Linked DNA regions of Homo sapiens. The protein of the gene in region 2 interacts with the protein of the main gene of each other region in a pairwise test. Each region holds a gene or a part of one and is shown on either strand. Other genes may lie near its edges.

Evidence for each region.
Region 1: the proteins of AKIP1 (region 2) and MAPK13 interact in a two-hybrid assay, tested with the Homo sapiens proteins (one study listed by BioGRID and IntAct).
Region 3: the proteins of AKIP1 (region 2) and SPTAN1 interact in a two-hybrid assay, tested with the Homo sapiens proteins (one study listed by BioGRID).

Annotation. Positions count from the first base shown.
Region 1 is NC_000006.12:36,126,315-36,133,588, forward strand, and holds the start of MAPK13 (mitogen-activated protein kinase 13), read left to right. Parts: upstream 1-4,198; 5' UTR 4,199-4,268; coding exon 4,269-4,387; intron 4,388-4,956; coding exon 4,957-5,086; intron 5,087-6,306; coding exon 6,307-6,365; intron 6,366-7,274. UniProt on the Homo sapiens protein: Serine/threonine kinase which acts as an essential component of the MAP kinase signal transduction pathway.
Region 2 is NC_000011.10:8,906,309-8,914,273, forward strand, and holds the start of AKIP1 (A-kinase-interacting protein 1), read left to right. Parts: upstream 1-4,880; 5' UTR 4,881-4,915; exon of another isoform or gene 4,916-5,135; 5' UTR 5,136-5,141; coding exon 5,142-5,363; intron 5,364-6,144; coding exon 6,145-6,225; intron 6,226-7,965. UniProt on the Homo sapiens protein: Enhances NF-kappa-B transcriptional activity by regulating the nuclear localization of the NF-kappa-B subunit RELA and promoting the phosphorylation of RELA by PRKACA.
Region 3 is NC_000009.12:128,576,575-128,583,677, forward strand, and holds part of SPTAN1 (spectrin alpha chain, non-erythrocytic 1), read left to right. Parts: intron 1-248; coding exon 249-382; intron 383-554; coding exon 555-699; intron 700-777; coding exon 778-932; intron 933-1,535; coding exon 1,536-1,671; intron 1,672-3,062; coding exon 3,063-3,164; intron 3,165-4,347; coding exon 4,348-4,485; intron 4,486-5,207; coding exon 5,208-5,318; intron 5,319-5,904; coding exon 5,905-5,982; intron 5,983-6,119; coding exon 6,120-6,275; intron 6,276-6,502; coding exon 6,503-6,707; intron 6,708-7,103. UniProt on the Homo sapiens protein: Fodrin, which seems to be involved in secretion, interacts with calmodulin in a calcium-dependent manner and is thus candidate for the calcium-dependent movement of the cytoskeleton at the membrane.

The DNA.
Region 1 (7,274 bases), on a different chromosome or scaffold from region 2:
TATGTGGGGCTTTTGTCTCGATCTCTAAGAAACCAGTCACCAATTCCCACACCATGTCTCTGCCTCCAGAGGCTCACAGGCTAGCTAGGAAGACAATGCAACAACAGCAGCCACTTCTCAGGCACTTGCTGGGCACCAGGAATTCTAGTTGACAGTTAAATGTGCAGACTTAGGAGCCAGATGCCAGGTATGAAGATCATGTTCACCACTTTCTTAGTTATGTGCGACCTTGGGCAAATTACATAACCTCTCCGGGCCTCAGTCTCTCCATCTGTACCAGGGGAATAATTATATTGGAATAGACTAGACCAAAGCAGCCCTGACATCTGGGAGCTGCCTGGTCCTATCAGCCAGGACTTGGTTGCTCAGAGCTGTCCAGCCTGGTGCAATTCGGTCTTGCTGTGCTGAACATAGACGATTTCACAGACATCAGCATAGAACAAGGCCATCCGCGACCAGGGCAGACTAAGACAAAAATGAAACTACTCCTTAATCATATCTGAACACAGACAAAACATGAATATTGTCAAATCACAGAAATGACCCAAATCCCCCTGTAGAGCTAAGCTGAGTGGAGGCTGCTGGTTTACCAGCTGTAGCTTCAGCCTTGCTCTAGTCTGCTTTCCTTCTAGGCAAGATGTATTAAGACTCCCAATCATAGTGTTAGCTCCACTTCCTGACAGCATCAACCCAGAACAAAGCCTCACTTCCTTAACCTCTCCCCAATCACCTAACACAACTCCAAACATTAGACTAAGTCCTTTCTAACGCCCCCTTCCTGGGACGCCCCATGATCCCCATGGTGCATGCTCTCCCTTGTTGCAACGAGTCATCAGCTCAGCTTGTTCACCCACACGTGTGTTTCTGGTGATCTCTGGTTGGAGGCATTGAAAGTTCCTACCTCATTGGGTTGTCGTGAGGAATATGTACTTGAAATGATACAATCCTAAGGCTCTTTCAATATGCTTGTCATACTTTATTATTATCCCCATTTCACAAGGAGGACACTGAAGCTCAGAGAGAGGGCCAGACTTTGCCCAAGGTCACACAGCTGGTAATGACAGAGAAAGGATGTAAATTCAGGCCTCATTCCAAAGCTAGTTTCCTGAATCCCTGCCTCCATGCTCCATGCTCATAGGGCAGAAACCAACAAGACAACTTGGGTTGGTGTTTGGAGAGGAGAAGAGCAAAGGGCCCTTGGAACTCAAAAGAGAGCCTCAGGCTGGAGAAGCAGGGTATCCAGGATGACCTGAGTGACCCTCTCCTCCTCCCCTCCCTTTCATGACTCCCCAACTGGATCCTCCAAGGGCTCCCTCCCAGACTGCCTGGCTGCTGAGTAATGCAGAGCCAGTCAGGCCCAGAGTAGGGGTCAGTGTCAGCAGAGTCGGAGGCCTGAGTCACTTCCTGACCCTTGCTCAAGAGCATCCGGAGCTACAGCCAGAGTGGCCACTCGTGCTCTCAGAAGATCGCACCCACTTGGGCGATGAGCATGTCCTTGGTATCCCCACCTTCCTGGGCTCACCTCTGCCCCACTCAGGTGTTTAAGACGTGCAGCAGAGAGGCGCCATCCTGACCTGGTGCCACATCCTAGCCCCTTTCCTTACTGGATCCTCAAACCAGAAGAAAACCTGAATCTCTGAGGTCAGTTACTCTCTTTTGCCTGCGTCTAGCCTAAAATCTGGCTTCCAGGACCCCACCCCAACTTCAGAATCAAGGTACCTTGCACTGGTGCCACTGATCCCAAAGGTCCAAAACTCCTGCAGCACTCACAGGCAAGCGACCCCGTTCCTTAGGCTCTCATGGGGTCTCAGGGCCAGAGTAGGGGGTGGGGGAGGGAAAAGGCTGGGGAAAATATCAGATACCCCAGGGCAGGATGGACTGAGGGAGACATGGTTGGATCAGTAGACATGTCCTTATGATGTGGGCAAGGCCATTTCCTTTGAGGAGCAATTCTGTCAACTCTAGGCCACCGCATAGCCTCGCAGCCAAGAGCAGGGACTCTAGAATCAGGCTGTACTTGCTTTCACCCAGCTCTGCCCTTACCAGCTGTGTTACCTTGGGCAAATTACTTAGCCTCTCTGTACCTCGGGTTCCTCATCTCTAAAATGAGGATAATCATATTACTGACTCACAGGCCTCTTACCAGGATTAAGTGAGTTATATAAAACACTTAATGACGGGCACATGGCAAACACAAGTGTGTATTAAATGACTCTTTTACATCTAATGGGCTGACTCCTCCATTCATTCTCCACACATTTGCTGTTATATTGCCATGTGCCAGAAATGAAAAAGACAGATTGCCTGACTGAAATAATGGCAGGTGTTGTTGTGTGATGATGGCACCCCACCCTCATCTCAGAATGATCTTCCAGGCTGTGCCTGAGGCTGCAGGACTGCCCGGGAGGGCTTGGGGCACAGAGTTTGGGGGCTGCAGACTCCCTAGTGTGGGCCCCCGGCTTGCTGTAAGCCCCTAGCAAATTTCTTTCCTTGTTCAATAGACCTTCTTTTTGACAAAGTGAAGCAGGTGGTCCCCGCCCCTTCCACAGCCCCATGCCTGGGCAAGAGAGGGGTTGGACAAGTCAGGCTGGGCATCCAGAGCCCTTGCAGCCATCTCCTCCCCCCACCTGCCCACCTTGCTCCTCAGAGGCCTTTGTGGTTTGAGCAAAGAATCTCCATCAGGCTGCACAGGCCACCAGACAGGTGGCAAGGGCCCCAATTAGTCATTGTCCTCATAGAGCCTTAGGAAGTCCACAGAAACTGTGTTCAAAACTGCACATTTGGGCCAGGTGCGGTGGCTCACTTCTGTAATCCAAACACTTTGGGAGGCTGAGGTGGGCGGACCACCTGAGGTCAGGAGTTGAAGACCAGCCTGGCCAACATGGTGAAACCCCGTCTCTACTAAAAATACAAAAATTAGCTAGGAGTGGTGGTGTGCACCTGTAGTCCCAGCTACTCAGGAGGCTGAGGCAAGAGAATTGCTTGAACCTGGGAGGCGGAGGTTGCAGTGAGCTGAGATGGCGCCACTGCACTCCAGCCTAGGCAATAGAGTGAGACTCCATGTCAAAAACAAACAAAAATCCTGCACATTTGAACCTGCGTGGATATTTGGTATTATAGAATTAGTGCTATTAATTTTAGGTTTAAGAATGTATTGTGGGCCAGGCGCGGTGGCTCACGCCTGTAATCCCAACACTTTCGGAGGCCGAGGCGGGTGGTTCACGAGGTCAGGAGTTCAAGACCAGCCTGGCCAAGATGGTGAAACCCCATCTCTATTAAAAATACAAAAATTAGCCGGGTTTGGTGGCAGGCACCTACAATCCTAGCTAATCGGGAGGCGGAGGCAGAGAATTGCTTGAACCCGGGAGGCGGAGGTTGCAGTGAGCCGAGATGGCAACTGCACTCCGACAGAGTCTCAAAAAATATATATATATAGTATTGTGGATACGTACTTTTAAAAATCCTTACGTTTTAGAGATACAAAAATATTTATGAATAAAATGATATGACGCCTGGGTTTTGCTTCAAAACGATGGTGGGAGAGGAATGTGGATGAAATAAAATTGATTATGAGTTGTGGTTGCTGGGGAATTGGGGTCACGGGGGTTCATTAGAACCTCCTATCAGATGTGGTTCAGAAGCCTCAGACCTGGGAGCTGGCTAGAAATGCAGAATCTCGGCTCCACCCCAAACCTACTGAGTCAGGATCTGTATTTTAATCAAATAAAATGCCCAGGGGATTCCTGAGCACACTGAAGTGTGAGAAGCGCTGGCTTACTCTGTTCAATTCTTTCCTGCATGTTTGACATTTTCCATAATGAAGAGGTTGTGGGGTTTTGTTCTGCTTTCCTGTGTGTTCACAGTCACAGGGAGCTCTTCCTACGGAGACCGGGGCTGGAGGGAACTGGGAAGCACTGCCTCCCCGCTCCTGCTTGGACCCACCAGCCCCGCCGCTGGCCCGCGCTCGGCTGGGAGGCACCGGGGTCCCGCTGGGCAGCCCCGACCCCGTGCCTGGGCCGCACCTGCCGCAGTGGCTCCGTCGGGCCGGGCGGAAGCGCGGGAGCGCAGGGCTGGACAGGCCCGGGCGTGGCGGCCCCGGCGCACCTGGGCGAGCCGGCAGGTGGGAGCGTAGCAGCCCGGGGCCCCCGCCCTCGCGCGGGGGAGGAGCGGGCGGCGCGGGGCGGGCGCAGCGGGGGTCGGGGCGCTGGGAGCCCGTTGGGCCGCGAACGCAGCCGCCACGCTGGGGCCGCCGAGATCGGGTGCCCGGGATGAGCCTCATCCGGAAAAAGGGCTTCTACAAGCAGGACGTCAACAAGACAGCCTGGGAGCTGCCCAAGACCTACGTGTCCCCGACGCACGTCGGCAGCGGGGCCTATGGCTCCGTGTGGTGAGACCCCTGGGCCGCTGGGGGGCGGGGGGCGGGCGCCAGGCTCTCCCCTTTCCGCCCAGCCCGCCCTGGGCTGGCCCCTCGCCAGCGCCACCTTGACCGCGGACCTCAAGGCCCAGCGCCCTCCCCGGGGCCACCCAGCGGCCATCTCCCTTTTCTCACCGAGTGGCTGAGTGAGGTCTCTGGGGGTTGAGTTGGGACTGGGCCTGGTTCTCCAGGACTGTACACTTGCAAGACCCCAGAGTTCATCGGGCAGATCCTCACTGTTACAGACGAGTACACCGAGGCCCCAAGAGGGGGAGGTGGCTCGCCAAGTTGCAGACAGAGTGAGACTCCCGCCCTGCCGTGGATCCCGTCGCAATGAGACGTTGCTGCCCCTGGCGCTGTGCCCCTCTCTCAGCTCCTGCCTGGCTTCCTACTCCCTGCCCTGCGTCCCGCGGCTCCCCCATATTCTAGGTGGTGGGCCTAGTCCCCTCTCAGCCCAGCTGCCCAGTGGGAGGGGTCAGGGCGGTCTGGGAGATACGGCCCAGGAGGAGAGCCTCGCCTGCTGACCGGCCTGTGCCCGACAGCTCGGCCATCGACAAGCGGTCAGGGGAGAAGGTGGCCATCAAGAAGCTGAGCCGACCCTTTCAGTCCGAGATCTTCGCCAAGCGCGCCTACCGGGAGCTGCTGCTGCTGAAGCACATGCAGCATGAGAACGTAGGTGGTGGCTGCCCCGGGGAGGGGGTGGGGGCTGCCCTGGGGAGTCAGGGGCAGGCGCAGGCGGGGCCTCCCGGTATGGAGAGCTCGGGACAGTCTCCTCCCTGCTCCCCTGACGGTGCCTCTCGCCTCACTATTGAAAGGAGGGGGTGCCGAGACCTTCCCTGCCCACTTTCCAGGAAGAGGTCAAAGGGTATTTTTGGCAGAATGCACTTTGTGAGGTACAGACTGTGTTATCCTACAGAGGAAATTGGCACAGGGGAACTTTGTAATTGGTTCCATGTCTGAGAGCTTGTGGCCAGCTGGGACTAGAATCCTAGTTAGCGTTGTGTCCACGTGACCCTGATAACAATAGCAATATACACATATTGAGCACTTCCTATGTTCTAAGAGCTCTGCATACACTAACTTGTCTAGTCCTCATGATATATGAGTACTACTGCCCCCATGTCACAGACAGGAAACTAAAGCACAGCAAGGCTCACAGATTAGATGGTTAGTCAGTAGCAGAGCTGGGGTTTCAATCTCGGCAGCGAGGCTCCCGGTCTGAGCACATGACCATCAGATTGTCTTGTCTGATAGAAGCAGCTGGGAAAACCAGGGGCCCAGCTCAGGGCCTGGCAGCCAGGCTTTGCTGCAGGATACCTAGATTGGAGGGCAGACATTTCAAAGAATGATTTCAAAATGTTATGTACATTTTAAGCCCATCCTTCTCCAGCAAACCCCTCCCCTATGGCCTCCAGCCAGGGTGATCTTGCCCTTGGCTCTGAACCAGCCCTGTGGCAGGCAAGGATGGATGTGGCTGGAGACCCAAGGTCAGGGGCAGGGAGTTTGCTGGCTGAAAAGCTCCTTCTCTGTTCCCTCCTTTTTCCCTTCCACCCTCCCCTTATGCTTTCCTGCTGCCTAGGTGAGTTGAGAGTGGGTTTGTGTTGCTTGCCCTGACACCAGACTTGACAGCAATGAGCACACATCATTCTCCCCACCTTCCCTTCTCCCCAGCCTGACTCTCTGTCATGATTTATTGCAAACTCCCTCCAAATCCAGGGGATTCCTCTAGGCCTCTGCCCTTTTTACTGCTTCCAAGAAGGTTGGAGACATGCCTCCTGCTGGAGGTGGTGTATTAGGAAAGGGTGGATGGCCCTGTGCATGGCCAGGGCCCAGGAGGAGGTGGGAGGAGAAGGTAGCGTCTGTCTAGCCCTCACAGGTGACTTCTTCCCCAGGTCATTGGGCTCCTGGATGTCTTCACCCCAGCCTCCTCCCTGCGCAACTTCTATGACTTGTGAGTTGGGCTGCACTGGGTTCTGGGGCATTTGCAGGCCTTACATGCCGCTGGGGAGCAAGGTGGGGGAGGGTCTAGGGTTTCTATTCCGGGTGTGGCGGGGAGAGCCTCCTTCCCTGGCAGTCCTGTGCCTTTGCCTGTCAAGTGTGATTCTCTCTGGAAAGATGCTTTTAGCCAAAGGCAGGCAGGAAGAGGCAGGAAGGACTTTGTGGGGTGCTTGCCTGGCAGGGGGCAGTCTGCACAGCTGCTTTGCTTTTTACCCAGCTTTAACACCATGAAGACACATCTGCCAGTCCTCACAGGGTTAGCACCAACTCACCTTTCCTGGGGACACAGATGTGAGTCTGGACCTTGGAGCTCTTTCTAGCATGAAGCAAGGATTAAGAAGCCTTGGCTGCCTCTGGCTGATGGGGGTGTTTGACAGAATGGCAGAAAACCAGAATATTTAGCTGCAAAATGTATAGCTTTGCCTGTGCAGTGTCTGAATGAGACTGGACTATTTGGACAAGATGGAGAAGTCAGTGTGGCACGTGGAGGCCAGCAGCTGGCTTGGTCAAGCTGAATCTGGACTGACCCTACAGGCAGCCTCAAGACCTGGGGACTTTGAGCCGGGAGGTGATATGTTCAGATGGGATTTGGGGGATGCACACTGGCAGCAGCAAGAAAGGAGTAGGAAGCAGCTCGGAGGCAGAGGGGGAGAGCCTGGAGGTCAGTGTTAGTGATCTAAAGTAGGGATCTAAAGCAGAGGTGATGGGATGCCAAGAGCAGACTTGAGGCCCCATTTGGGAGGCAGGGCCGACACAATGTTCCATCTGTTGGGGTGCAGTAGCTGAGTGAGGTGGCAGAGGTGGAGGAATGGGCAGGTTCCTGCTTGAAATACACGGTAGAGGAAGAACAGATCTTGGGGGA
Region 2 (7,965 bases):
CGTTCTCCTGCCTCAGCCTCCCCTGGGACTACAGGCTCCTGCCACCACGCCCAGCTAATTTTTTGTATTTTTAATAGAGATGGGGTTTCACCGTGTTAGCCAGGATGGTCTCAATCTCCTGGCCTCGTGATCTGCCCATCTCAGCCTCCCAAAGTGCTGGGATTACAGGTGTGAGCCACCGCGCCCAGCCAAGAAGTCTTCAAAAAAAAAAAAAAAAAAACTCTACATAAATTTCAACTGTTTATATTAAATATCTTCCAAATACTATTCCTTTGATCTCTGACTTTTAAAAATGACAAGATTTCAATCATTCCTGCTCTGCAACCAATTTTTTTAACTCCCAGTCAATTTTAAACAGATTGTGAAAGTTAATTCTCAGAAGTTTGATTCATTTTCTTTAATCTACATCATCAAGATGACAATTTTGATAATGAGTTTCTTTCATTCCCCCAATAACCCAGTGAGATGATGTAATCAGGCAAAATGAATGATCTAATGACTCAGTCTGTAATACTACCTTACAAAGCTGTGATGATTCCAAAGCTCTTAAGTCTGCTGGAGAAATAACAATACCATTTGTCAAATAAAATGATTTATACAGTTTCTGGTATGTACAGTATAAATCACTGTCTAACTCTGGCACAGTACCCACTTTTGCATCCTGGGTTTTTAACCCTTTTTGGCCCCCTTCACATAAAGAAAAGGAATTTACATTGCTCTTCACTGGACTTGTTTTTTCTCCTCAAAAAGTCCCAAATACAGCACCAGTCTCTTTCCCCATTTCACAATTAAAGACCTCTTCCAACGCATCTCCTCCAAAACATAGAACCCTGACAACTAACTTTCATCTGTTCTCATTAGTGAATTTACCCTTGTGAAGATAGAAGTCATTAAAAACTCATATCAATAGTTTATTTTTCTGTCAATACTGACAGTCTATTTCCCTGTTGACCAGGCACATTCCTAATTAGTTGCCCTCTCTCCATTTACAATTCCATTTTCAGTTCTCACCAGTGGCTTTCATTTGGCGTGGGCTATATTTGATCCACAAGGGGCCTGATGGTAGGTCATGTTCTATCATTATTCCCAGCCAATCTTAAAAAAGATAAAAAGGAATCTCTCAAGTCTCTCAATCTGTGGTTTACAGGATGAATCTTTAAAATTATAAATATGCACATATAAAAATATATTTACAAATATATTTACAAATAGAAAAATAAAAACAAATGCAAAGATTTAATTTAGAGTCTTTTGGTTTCAGTTTCATTTCAAGCATCTTCTTTCCCATAAATTTCTAAATGTTAAATTCTGAGAAAATGTAGTTACAATTGAATATTCATTACATTCATTAAAGTTCATGTAGGTAGGTGTTTTTTTAATAGAAAAGCCAACTCTTTTTTTTCTTAAGATAGGTTCTTACTCTGTTGCCCCGGCTGGAGGGCAGTGGCACGATCATAGCTCACTGCAGCCTCAACATCCTGGACTCAAGCAATCCTCCCATCTCAACCTCCCGAGTAGCTAGGACTACAGGTATGAGCCACCATGCCAGGCTAGTTTTTTAATTTTTTAAAAAATAGAGACAGGGGTCTCACTATGTTGCCCAGGCTGCTGTCAAACTCCTGGCCTCAAGTAATCCTTCCACCTCAACCTCCTGAACTTCTGGGATTACAGGTGTGAGCCACCACAAAGCCACCTCTTTATGTGGGCTAACAGAAGTCTATTTAACTTAAAAATTAAATCAGAGTAATTTCAACAAATGGCTACTGAACACCCGCTACTTAACAGGTCCTGGAATGTTTAGGGACAAATAAGGAACAGTTTCTGCCTTCAAGGAATTGAAAGGCTATTGGGAGAGAAGAAACCATAACTACACATAATTTAAATTAGATTGGAAAAGTACACACAAAAAATTTTTTTAAGGCTATGGCAACAGAGGTGGCAACTGGGAACCACTGGGAAAAGTTTCAAAGAGCTGACCTGACAAAAAGAAAGTAGTGCCTCAACTGGAATGACTAAAATAGAATGGGGAAGAGAGACAAATGAGATGAGGTGTGGCTATGATACTGGGTAAGTGAGAGCATATTTTGGGAGACCAGGCTGAAGCTTAAGATAATAATACTAGCTAATATTTATTGAGCACCTACTATGTACCAAGTACTATAAATGCACTTTATAGATATTAACTTACTTGATATTCACAATAACCCTATGAGGAATGTGCTAAAACCTTGAAATCCATAAAAAATAAAGAGGACCAAATTCTGTCCCACTCCAACCACACTTATTGTAAAAGCAGTTAACGGGTATCTTATCTACCTCTTCTCTCACTGATTCCTAGGCCATCAGGCCTAGCTTGAAAACTACATTCTCTGCAAAACCTTTCTTGATCCTCCCAGCTGAACATAGTCTCCTAAGCTTGATAGCATTTTATCTGTGTCAATCTTATGGCATGTCCGAATATTTTGTTCTTGGTATTATAGATTTTATGTGCATTCTTTCCTCTTTTTTATTCTCCTTTAGTCTGATCCACATTCTGTTCTCCACAACTCCTAGGGCAGTGCCTGGCACATACTAATGCTAGCTAAGTCTATGGAGCACTTATCTTTGCCGGGCACTGTGCTAAGCATTTTACAGGAATTATCTCACAGAATCCTAATGGCAACCCAATTCACACATTCAAGGGCTATTTTTAGTCCTTACTGTGACAGACAAAATAGTAAATACTAGATGCACCTTAAACTCTAAACACTACAGATACAGTCCCTTCCCTCAAGAAGCTCAGTCTAAAGAAGTTAGTACTATTGGAATCCCCAGATATAGAGATGAGGAAAAGTGAGGCTCAAAGAAGTAATATGTTTGCCCAGAACCACAGAGCAAAAAAGTGGCAGAGAGCCTGGGCAACATAGGGAGACCCTGTCTCTACGAAACATTTAAAAAATTTGCAGGGCGTGGTGGCTGAAGAAGAGGATCGCTTGAGCCCAGGAGGTCGAGGCTGCAGTGAGCCGAGATCGTGCCACTGCACTTCAGCCTGGCTGACAGGGTGATACCCTCGTTTCTTTATTAAACAAAAAAGAAGAAGAAGGAAGAAGGAAGAAGAGGAAGAAGAGGAAGAGGAAGGAGGAGGAGGAGGAAGAAGGAGAAGGAGAAGGAGAAGGAGAAGAAATGGAAAAAAAAAGATGGCAGAGCCAGAATTCAAACCAGCTCTCCCGAGTGGATATACAGGACCCCATGCACGTACAACCACTATGTTCTAAAGGAGGCACTTGATAAACCCTTATTGAAGGAAATGTTTTGGAATACCAATAAAATGAAAAAAAAATCATCTCAAGAATAATGTAGGGTTTCACTCACTGTTATTCTTTTTTATAAGGGGAAAGCAGGAAATTTGCAAAAGTTAAGTAGCATAGAAGGAGGTCGTATTGGTCGGCTACTACTCACCTGGTACCTGATAATTGCTCATCAAGCCATCTGTTGAGACTAGGTGAGGATGGAGTTTCTCTCCTTTTTCATGAACCACAGAGGAGACTTAAAGGAGGATTTATTTGTGTTCCTTAAAGTGACCCCCACTGAGCGTGTCCCTCAAAGTGGACCTTCCTAAGCATCGGCGCTTTGCTTTGCGCTGGGTGGTGCGGCTGAGTCACTAATTAGCAGTGAGAGCCTGGGCTGTATCTCCTACCAAATAACCAGCGGAGTGGAGTGACAGGTCCTTACTTAAACATGGTTTAAGTAAGCATTCACAGTTCCTTACTTAAACATGGTGCAGTCTTCCTAAAAGATGGAGTCAGACCCCAAGAGAACAGGTCTCCAAAAATATGTGAATCCGTACTTCCCACTGGAGGGGAGAGAGAGCTGCGCTGAGGGATTATGAGAGACCCTACAACTTCTCAGGCGCCCCCTGCCCCGGGGGCCAGGAACATCTGCAGACAGCCCCGCCTCCGTCTCGCCTCAATCCCGAGCTGTTCCCTTCTCCAAAGGCCACCTTGGCAGCCACACAGTTTGGCCTAATCACCTCCTCAAACAAGAGTAGCGACACCCCAAAATGTAGACCAAGCAGAAAGAGGCGCGGGAGGCACTTGCCTTATTCCCCATGATGTTTTTGTTTTGAGACGAAGTCTTCCTCTGTCGCCCAGGCTGGAGTGCAGTGGCGCGATCTCGTCTCACTGCAACCTCCGCTTCCCGGGTTCAAGCGATCCTCCCACCTCGACCCTCCCGAGTACCTGGGACTACAGATGCGCGCCACCACTCCTCCTACTGTGTGTGTGTGTGGACACGGGTTGTCGCTATGTTGCCTACCTAGCTGGTACCCCATAACCACTCCTGGCTAGTGTGTGTGTGTGTGTGTGGACACGGGTTGTCGCTATGTTGCCTACCTAGCTGGTACCCCATAACCACTCCTGGCTAGTGTGTGTGTGTGTGTGTGTGTGTGTGTCTACACGGGTTCTCGCTATGTTGCCTACCTAGCTGGTACCCCATAATTTTTTAGCTCAACAGGAGACCTGCCTTTATACCCACCAAGTTAAGCAGCGCAGTAGCCCTCTAAGGGCCAGCCCCACGCCCAGAGGCTCCTCTGACAGCGTGGACAGATGCCCTGGGCTGCTGGCTCGACTCAGTCCTCAGCCCCCAGCCCCCGACCCCCGACCCCCGGCCCCCGACCCCCGACCCCCGGCCCCCAGCGCCCGGCGCCCCGCCTCCAGCGCTCAGCAGTTAACCAGGCAACTCGCGCGCAGACGCCAAGGCTGGGACGCAGAAGGCGTGTTTGGCCGCCCAGCCGCCCCGCCTCCCCCACTTCTCCCGCCTCTCCCGCCTCTCCCGCCTTCCGCCAATGGCCCAGCTGCGCCGGCGCCGCCGGGAGCGCTAGGCCTGGTCCCTCTTCCTAGAATAGCGTTGCGCGCATGCGCCTTGACGAGTGAGCCGGGTGAGGGGGCTCCCTAAGTAGCGGAAGGGGTAGATGAAAATGGAAGGGGCGGGCGCGCTAGGCCTAGTCCTGGCTGGGCTCCCGCTGGAGTGTGCGTTGGGGGCGGACCAGGAGCGGTGGTCTCCAGGGAGGTCGAGGCTGGGGCTCCCACCCGGATTTGGAGCAGGGTCGCCGCGGCCCAGCTGACCCGCCGGCGTTTGTACGTTGTGTGCCCACTCAGGGAGCCATGGACAACTGTTTGGCGGCCGCAGCGCTGAATGGGGTGGACCGACGTTCCCTGCAGCGTTCAGCAAGGCTGGCTCTAGAAGTGCTGGAGAGGGCCAAGAGGAGGGCGGTGGACTGGCATGCCCTGGAGCGTCCCAAAGGCTGCATGGGGGTCCTTGCCCGGGAGGCGCCCCACCTAGAGAAACAGCCGGCAGCCGGCCCGCAGCGCGTTCTCCCGGGAGAGGTGAGGGTCGCTGTGCCGGGGGCCGCCCCAGTCCTTCGCGCCGCGGTAGCCCGCTGGGAGCCAGGGGTGCGCAGCGCAGAAGCAGCTGAGGAAACCTTCCCTTAGCGGAAGCTGGAAAGGATCAGAACAATGAATGGAAAAGTCCTTTCAAAACGCTTTACATTTGACAGATTCTTGTTGGGTAGCTGTAGAATAACGGTAGTGTTCAGCCCTGGTTGGTTACTTAAAAAAAAAAAAAAAAATTAGCCGGGCGCGGTGGCTCATGCCTGCAATCCCAGCACTTTGGGAGGCCGAGGCGGGCGGATCACCTGAGGTCGGGAGTTCGAAAGCAGCCTGACCAACATGGAGAAATCCCGTCTCTACTAAAAATACAAAATTAGCCGGGCGTGGTGGCGCATGTCTGTAATCCCAGGTACTAGGGAGGCTGAGGCAGGAGAATCGCTTGAACCCGGGAGGCGGAGGTCGCGGTGAGCCGAGATCGCGCCATTGCACTCCAGCCTGGGCAACAAGAGCGAAACCTCCGTCTCAAAAAAAAAAAAAAAAAAAAAATCTTACAGCTATCATCTGATAGTAGAGGAAAGCCTGCAAGCCTGTCTCTTAGATCCTGGATAAATTGCATGTCTATCTTTTAGAGTTGGAATTCTTTCTCAATAACATCGTTCTTTCTGACATAAACTTGCAGAGCCTTTCCAAAAGTAAAAAGGAGACTATTTCCAAAATGGCTTCATTCTCCAGTAGGGAATCCTAGAGCTAACCTGTGACGTGCCATTTATTCAAATAGAGAGAAGAGAGACCCCCAACCCTTAGTGCTTCCTTCAGAACAATGGCTGAATTCATGGACTATACTTCAAGTCAGTGTGGGGTAAGTTGGTGTGAACCAAAACTATGCCCCATCACCTGCTGATGGACCACATTTGGATCTTTCTGGAATTTACGGAGAATCTGGACACTACCTGTTTCTCCTGCCCAGCCTTCACGGTCAGATTGTAATCAGTCAAGGACTTAAACCAGGGGGTAAATCCAAGTTAGAATTCACCCAATAAATGTTTATTGAATGCCTAACCCTGTAGCTGACAATATAGCAATGAAAAGTCAGAAAAGGTCTTCTGCCCTCAGTGATCTTTCAGTCTAGTGGGGGGAAAATAGCTTATTTGCCGAATTTCATAGCAAATAAGTTAAATATTAGGGGTTTTTTTTAACTTTTTTTTTTTTTTTTTTTTTGAGACAGAGGCTTGCTCTGTGGCACAGGCTGGAGTGCAGTGGTGTGATCTCGGCTCACTGCAAGCTCTCCCTCCTGGGTTCACACCATTCTCCTGCCTCAGCCTCCCTAGTAGCTGGGACTACAGGCGCCCACCACCACGCCCAGCTAATTTTTTTTTTTGTATTTTTAGTAGAGACGGGGTTTCACTGTGTTACCCAGGATGGTCTCCATCTCCTGACCTCGTGATCCGCCCGCCTCAGCCTCCCAAAGTGCTGGGATTACAGGTGTGAGCCACCGTGCCCGACCTTTTTTTTTTTTTTTTAATTGAGACAGAGTCTCACTCCATCACCCAGGCTGGTGTGCAGTGGCTCAGTCTCGGCTCACTGCAACCCCTACCTCCTGGCCTCCTGGTTCAAGCGATTCTCCTGCCTCAGCCTCCCGAGTAGCTGGGACTACAGGCACATGCCACCATGCCTGGCTAATTTTTGTATTTTTAGTAGAGACAGGGCTTCACCATGTTGGCCAGGCTGCTCTGGAACGCCTGACCTCGAGGGATCCGCGCATCTTGGCCTCCCAAAGTGCTGGGATTACAGGCTTGAGCCACCATACCCAGCCAAGTCATCTTTCGATACTTAGGGAATGTTGAGGGCAGGCCAGAAAACATTCAAGGAAATTACCTGCATGGAAGGCACTGTCTTCTAGGAATTACAGCAGGCTCTGGCCTCATGCAGTCTTAACACTTGGTGAGTCCTACATGGTTTTAAGGAGGCTGATCCACAAAGGAGATGGAAGAGAATACCTTGTTTCTGCCCTGCTTTTCAGTTTCATATGTTAAGATCTCAAAAAACTCTAATCTTTCTACATCTTTTATAAGAATCCCTGACTCCAAGAATAGGATTCCAACCAAAGAGGAATACTTCAGGGAATATTTTTATCTTATTTGTGTTGTTCAGTGGTTTTACAAAAATCAATAGCCTCAACTCTACTGTAAAGTGATTAAACCCTTGGTTCATGGTTCAGCAAAAGGAATAATATTTGTCTTTGGTTTGAGGTTTAGCAAATTGCTGTTCTTCATTTTTGTTTTCAGTTCATGCTTCAGTTCAAGTCTCTGTTATGAAATGGAGCCTCAGAACCTCTTGGCTTTCTAGAGATAGAATTAAGAATTGTGTACTGGGTTTGTCTCCACAGTTTGAAGCAGCCACTAAAACACATCTTTAGGTCTGTGTCCTCAAGTGCTTTCCCCAGCTTCTCGTTCTTCTGGTCACATGTTTTTTAGACAGTGTGCCTACCCTGTTCAAAACAAGCAGGGCTGTGATGTCATTAGTCATTATCAAGGGCAAGTCTAAGGCTAACTTTGAGGGGGAGGAAGGAAGCAGACAAGAGAAATGTAACTGTTTTCCG
Region 3 (7,103 bases), on a different chromosome or scaffold from region 2:
TTTGCACATAACCACCTTATAGACTAACCACACTACTCCAAAAGATAGAGAATGGCTCTCCCCTTTTTACATAAGAAATAGAAACTCTTTGGAGTTGTAGTTCACTTTGTATCATGTTGACCATTATTTCTTGTGATTCTCTTCAGAGTGGTGATTTGCTGAGATGCTTCAAGGAACCAACCCCAGGGTAACTAGTTGGAGGAGCCAGAAGTTGTGTACAAATCCAGTCTCTTCTCTTCCTTGTTTAGGAGCAGCACCCTGAGGAGGAACTGATCAAGACTAAGCAGGATGAAGTCAATGCAGCCTGGCAGCGGCTGAAGGGCCTGGCTCTGCAGAGGCAGGGGAAGCTCTTTGGGGCAGCAGAAGTTCAGCGCTTTAACAGGTGTCAAGCCAGAGTGGGCTTTGGGGAATGGGTCTCAACCTGGAGGGGAGTTGTGAAGCACAGGGCATGTGCTGGTGAGCTGTCGAGGCTGACTAGGCCTTGGTCCCATGGGGTGTTCCTAGTTCTAGGGAGTCATCATTGCTGTGGATTAACTGGTGCCTTTGTTCTGTAGGGATGTGGATGAGACTATCAGTTGGATTAAGGAAAAGGAGCAGTTAATGGCCTCTGATGATTTTGGCCGAGACCTGGCAAGTGTTCAGGCTCTGCTTCGGAAGCACGAGGGTCTGGAGAGAGATCTTGCTGCTCTAGAAGACAAGGTGGGTTTTACAAGCAGCTGATTCTGTAAATAAGTTACCAAGGGTCAGGAGAATAGTTCTGACGGAGTTCATTTCTAGGTCAAAGCCCTGTGTGCTGAGGCTGACCGCCTGCAACAGTCCCACCCTCTGAGTGCAACACAGATTCAAGTGAAGCGAGAGGAACTGATTACAAACTGGGAGCAGATCCGCACCTTGGCGGCAGAGAGACATGCACGGCTCAATGATTCATACAGGTGCAAATAATGCTCCAGGTCTTAACCAGTATCATTTGGCTTCTTTTTTGGAAGCAGGAATAGCAGAGTTAAGGGTCTGTTCTGTGTTCTGTGAAAGTGTCAGGTATCACCTACAAATGCAAATCACTTCTTACCTATGTTCTCTCTGTTTGGAGACTGGCAACTGTATCATGTGTAGTATACGTATGGTATTTACAACTTCATAAATTCTTCTATTCTGCATCACTGCATTATGATTGATAGAATGGGAATGTCCCTTTAAGTATCTGAGTATCACATGAAATATCTTATTAAAACCAGGATTAGAAAGGAAAAGAATCCTTGCTAGCCAAGGGTTGAACCTGGGAATAACAAGGAAGTTGAAAATGTGGGACAGGATTGGGGCATTATAGTGATGGAGAGAACCTAAGTTTTAAAGGGTTGATTTCAGCCTTCTCTTGCTTTCCTTCACAGTCTAGATTGGGAAATTTTCATATTTCCCAGAATTAGAATTTATATAGTTTGTTAGACATTTGAGAACATAGAATTCAGAGCTTTAGGGAGGCCATTTTCCACCCTGGAACCTCCGCTGGAAACATAATGTCTTCCTTTGGTTTTCCCTAGGCTTCAACGCTTCCTTGCTGACTTCCGTGACCTCACCAGCTGGGTGACTGAGATGAAAGCCCTCATCAATGCAGATGAGCTTGCCAGTGATGTGGCTGGGGCTGAAGCCCTGCTAGATAGACACCAAGAGCACAAGGTAATGGTATCTCTAGAATCTTCCAGAAGTGAAGATTTTAGCTTATAATGCACCAGTTTATCAGTGTTGGGTGAGGCCTATAGTCGGCGTTGGTACCATGTTATTCACAGGTGTTTCTCATCATGAGGATTATGGTTGGTTTTGCCTTTGGAGACCTGGTCTACCTGCTTCTGATAGAGGCTTAACTGGGTTCAGTGTCAAGAGGTTCACTGTGGTCCATAAAAGCAAACAGACAAGCTCTGGCGAGATAGAAGTGCTACTACTTGGCACATTGATCCTTTGTGATGTAAAAAGTATTTGTTGGGCCAGGCACGGTGGCTTATGTCTGTAATCCCAGCACTTTGGAAGGCTGAGGCGGGTGGATCATGAGGTCAAGAGATCAAGACCATCCATGCCAACATGGTGAAACCCCATCTCTACTAAAAATGCAACAGTTAGCTGGTCATGGTGGCACGCGCCTGTAGTCCCAGCTATTCAGGAGTCTGAGGCAGGAGAATCGCTTGAACCCGGGAGGCAGAGGTTGCAGTGAGCCAAGATCACACCATTCCACTCCCGTCCGGACAACAAGAGTGTTTCACTCTGTCTCAAAGAAAAAAAAAAAAAAAAAAACCTTCTGAGAGGTTTTAATGTGCTAGATACAAAATCAATATACTGAAAGTCAAACATGTTTCTCTACACTAGCAACAGAAACATAATTTTTAAAAATACTACTTATTAGAGCAGAAAATATAAAGTACTTAGGAATAAGTCTAACAAAAGAGTGTAAGACACTTCTGGAGAAAACTATAAAACTTTGTTAAAAGGCATTAAATAAAAACTGAATAGATAGAATGATTTATCTAGTACACAGATGGAACGATCTTCTGTGAAGGTGTAAATTCCCACCAGGATATATACCGTTAATGCAGTTCCAGTCAAGTGCTCAGCAGGTATATGTGTGTGTTTCTTTTTGCAATGAGATAAGCTGATTCCAAAACTGATTTGGAAGAAAAAAATTCAAAAAAAGCTGAGACAATGTTGAAGATCATAATGGGGCCAGGGAGGGACTCGCCCTACCAGGTTCTATAAAATCATAGTAAACAAGTCCATTTGGCACAAAGAAGACAGAGCCCTGGAATGAAAGAGAGCTCAGACCCATGTGAATGTGTGGAACCTTGACAAATGACAGGTGACCTGAAAAGCCATTTGGAAAGGATTTCATCAGTGAGTGATACTCTCACATTTGATGACCTAGACTGATTATGTATTAGGAAATCTGGCCTAATCTTTCATTTTGTTTCTCATTTTAGATGTCATAGTCTGGCTTATAATGCTTATGTAAAATTCAGCACCTTGTTTTTATTTTGTAAGATGCTGGGCACAAATCATGGCTTTGTTTTTTTCTCCTGTAGGGTGAAATTGATGCCCATGAAGACAGCTTCAAATCTGCAGATGAATCTGGACAGGCACTGCTTGCTGCTGGTCACTATGCCTCAGATGAAGTGAGGGAGAAGGTAAGAGAAGAGAAATGGAGCTTTTGAGGAGCAAATTACACCTTTCACTAAGTCTCTGAAAGCTATTATTCATCCTTAAATATCCAGAGAACGCATTCACCATGATATGTGAGAAACTTTCCTTTCTCTGCAGAGGTTTAAAAAGAAGGTATATGTATAGTGTGCTGATTTCCTGAGAGACAGTCCTCCTTATCTGGGGCATGTGTGGCATGTTTCCTACTTACAGGGACTTTCTGTAGGGAGCTGAGTCTTGCATTAGGAGTTGGAGCAAAGAGGAAACAAATTTTTATAAAATGATACATAGGCCAGGTGTGGTGTGACCCCAGCACTTTCAGAGGCCAAGGCAGGAGGATTGCTTGAGGCCAGGAATGGGAGACCATCCTGAACAACATAGTGAGACCCCCATCTGGACAAAAAATTAATAAATTAGCCAGACATGGTGGCACATTCCTATAGTCCGAGCTACTTGAGTTCAAGGTTATAATGAGTTATGATTTGCACCACTGCACTCTGGCTTGAGTGACAGAGTGAGACCCTGTCTCTAAAAAAAAATAAATAAATAAAAATAAAATATGTATATATATACATATTTTATTTTACTTTTTTTATATGTGTATATATATACACATATGTATATAAGTTTTGAAGTATCTTCGAGTATAAAATTGCCTAGGAACATTAGATAAATAATGATTTATATGATTTATATGTTTTTTAGTATTACATAGAGTAAAGACATTTCAAAGACTTGTCATTAGTAGCTTCGGAGCCTAAAGTCTAGGGAGTTTCTGAATTTATTTTCCATATGTTATGGAGCACCCACTCAGTTGACATTTCTTAGTGGAGAGTCCCTACTCCATTTATACTCCATTAAACTCCATTTATACTGCCTCACTTTTAAATGGATGCCCTATTTCTTCTACCTGGGAGTTTACTTACTGTTTTTACCTAAAGTCATTTGTGATCATTTGGCAATAAATTAATTCTAGATTAATTAAAACAGGCCATCCCTTTTATATTGAACATGCACATACAAGTGAATGTTGTTTTTCCCCTTTTGCAAATCGGAAAAAAGGCCTGAAGATTAGCACTAGGATTAGGAATTCCAGGATAGCTGTTCTGTCTGCCTCGGAGGCATTGGGGCTGACCTCATCTCCCTGACCATGTCTCCTATGCCCCCAAGCTGACCGTCCTTTCCGAGGAGAGAGCGGCGCTGCTGGAGCTGTGGGAGCTGCGCAGGCAGCAGTACGAGCAGTGCATGGACCTGCAGCTCTTCTACCGGGACACTGAGCAGGTGGACAACTGGATGAGCAAGCAGGAGGTAATCTGTGAGCAAAGCCTTGCCAGTGGTGGGAGAAGAAGGGCCTGTGTTTTGCCTCCTCGGGTAGTGTGCTTGTTTTGTTTTAGGACATCAGTACCATGTTAGTTCTGAATCCATTGAAGAGGGGGAATTGAGCAAGCTTCTCTCAGCTCTGCCAGCATCTCTCCCTGCTGAGATTGCAAGGCCTTCAGAAAAGGCCCCAGCTTTTCAGATTAGTGTGATGTAAAATGTTTTATTAAAGAGATTTTTTTCTTAGAACTTAGCATTGCTGGGTGCAGTGGCTCCCTGCTGTAATCCCAGCACTTTGGGAGGCTGAGATGGGAGTATCCCTTGAGCCCAGGAGCTCAAGGCTGCAGCAAGCTATGATCGTACCACCGCACTCTAGCCTGTGCAACAGACCGAGATCCTGTCTCACAAAAAAAAAAAAAACAAACAAAAAAAACAAACCTTAGCATTATGTAACATCTGAATCTAATAGAAGCAACAAAAACTATGTAAGAGAAGTTTCAATAGAATGTGGAATAGGATTTCATGATATGGCTGGATTGATTTTAAGAAAATCCAAAAGGACTTTAGACTTCCTAGAAGAGATCTTAGAAGTTTAGCAGCCATAAAATCTCTTTCCTTCTTTTTATATTTTGGCCAAAATACCCTTTGCTTCACAGTCTTAGAAGATCAAAGGAATAGGACATTATTCTGAACACTTTGTTTCCTTTGGCAAGGCGTTCCTGTTGAATGAAGACTTGGGAGATTCCTTGGATAGTGTGGAAGCGCTTCTTAAGAAGCACGAAGACTTTGAGAAATCCCTTAGTGCCCAGGAGGAAAAGATTACAGTAAGACCCCTTCTTGTCAGTGCTTTCAAATGACCCTTATAGTAAGCCAGAGTCTTTTTCCCTGGAAGGATTCCAAACAGATTTGATGAAAGATTCATATGCAGAGTACTCCTGTGGGTGCTTAAACTTTCACAAGGATGACATGCTATCTCGTTGAAGACATAATACAACTTTATGGAAAAATGATTTACTTAATGGAAACCTCCAAACTTCTTTAAGTTTGTACCCTTCATTAAAAGTAGGTCAGGGTTAATATTAAGAGGTACTCTTCCCATTGAAAATACATCTTAGAAATAAGAATTTGGAAAGCTGTTAACCTGTGTTTGACCCCTGCCAGGAGATCGTGCCACAACTAATGTCTCCAGTCTTGAATGGAGGTAGTGCAGTCTTATGATATCTGACTGGTGACATCAAGCAAAATCTCAAAAGTTATGAGAAAAAATGTCATCACCAACCTTTGGGTGAAAACCTTGACCTATGTTAAAGTTTGGTGTGTTTTATGATCTGTTCAGCAGTTACTTTTCTCCAGAGGCCAAGCTTGGGACTAGTGTGCTTACCAATGAAGAACTCTTATCTTCCTTCCTAGGCATTAGATGAATTTGCAACCAAGCTAATTCAGAACAACCACTATGCAATGGAAGATGTGGCCACTCGCCGAGATGCTGTAAGTTTGTAGGTTCTTCATGCTCCTCCTTTTTGGTACATGAATGTCTCTTCTAAGATGTTCCAGTTAAGTCTCTTCAACTGGATATCCCTTTGGGAGTGAACACTAGAGACTCACAGGGGATCCTTGTCTTTCAGCTGTTGAGCCGCCGCAATGCCCTTCACGAGAGAGCCATGCGTCGCCGGGCCCAGCTAGCCGATTCTTTCCATCTGCAGCAGTTTTTCCGTGATTCTGATGAGCTCAAGAGTTGGGTCAATGAGAAGATGAAAACTGCCACAGATGAAGCTTATAAAGTAATGTACTGTTAGTGTTGCCATGTAGCACTCGATTAGTAAGCTAAACACAGCTCTCACAAATAAATTGTAGCTAAAGGACGAAATAAGGGATTCCAGAAACCCCACTACTTAATGTAAGCCAACTGTTTTATACATTCCTCCATAAAGATAAGTATGAAGGTAGTGCAAGGGAACTTGACGTTCTCAGGTTCAAGATAGAAAGAACCCCCTTCTTTTATTCACAGGATCCATCCAACCTACAAGGAAAAGTACAGAAGCATCAGGCTTTTGAGGCTGAGCTCTCAGCAAACCAGAGCCGAATTGATGCCTTGGAGAAAGCTGGCCAAAAGCTGATTGATGTCAACCACTATGCCAAGGATGAAGTGGCAGCTCGTATGAATGAGGTGATCAGTTTGTGGAAGAAACTGCTAGAGGCCACTGAACTGAAAGGTAAGAGATGTTCCATTGAATTGTGACATGCATGTTTGGGGAACTAAATACCCCTTTCTATTAAGTATTTTAGGGACATATACCCCCCAAGAAAGGTGAGGTGGATGACTTTGGCGTTAGGGATAATTTCCTGTGTAGGAATTACTTGGCTTAAGTTCTTGATAATAATTTGGTAAATGTGGTCGAGCATACTGGTTGGTGAGGGAGTCTGAGTGAGAAGGAACTGAATTGGGCCTCATTGCTGAAAATCAAAGTTCAGCTGAGAGCCAAGGGCATTTACTAATTCTCCAGTGTCCTTATATCTCAAGGGGGTTAGAATGCTTCCAGTTCAACCTTGAGAAGGTAGAGCAGAGGCTGCAATTGATATTTTCTTTCTCTTTGTGACATAAGTGAAGG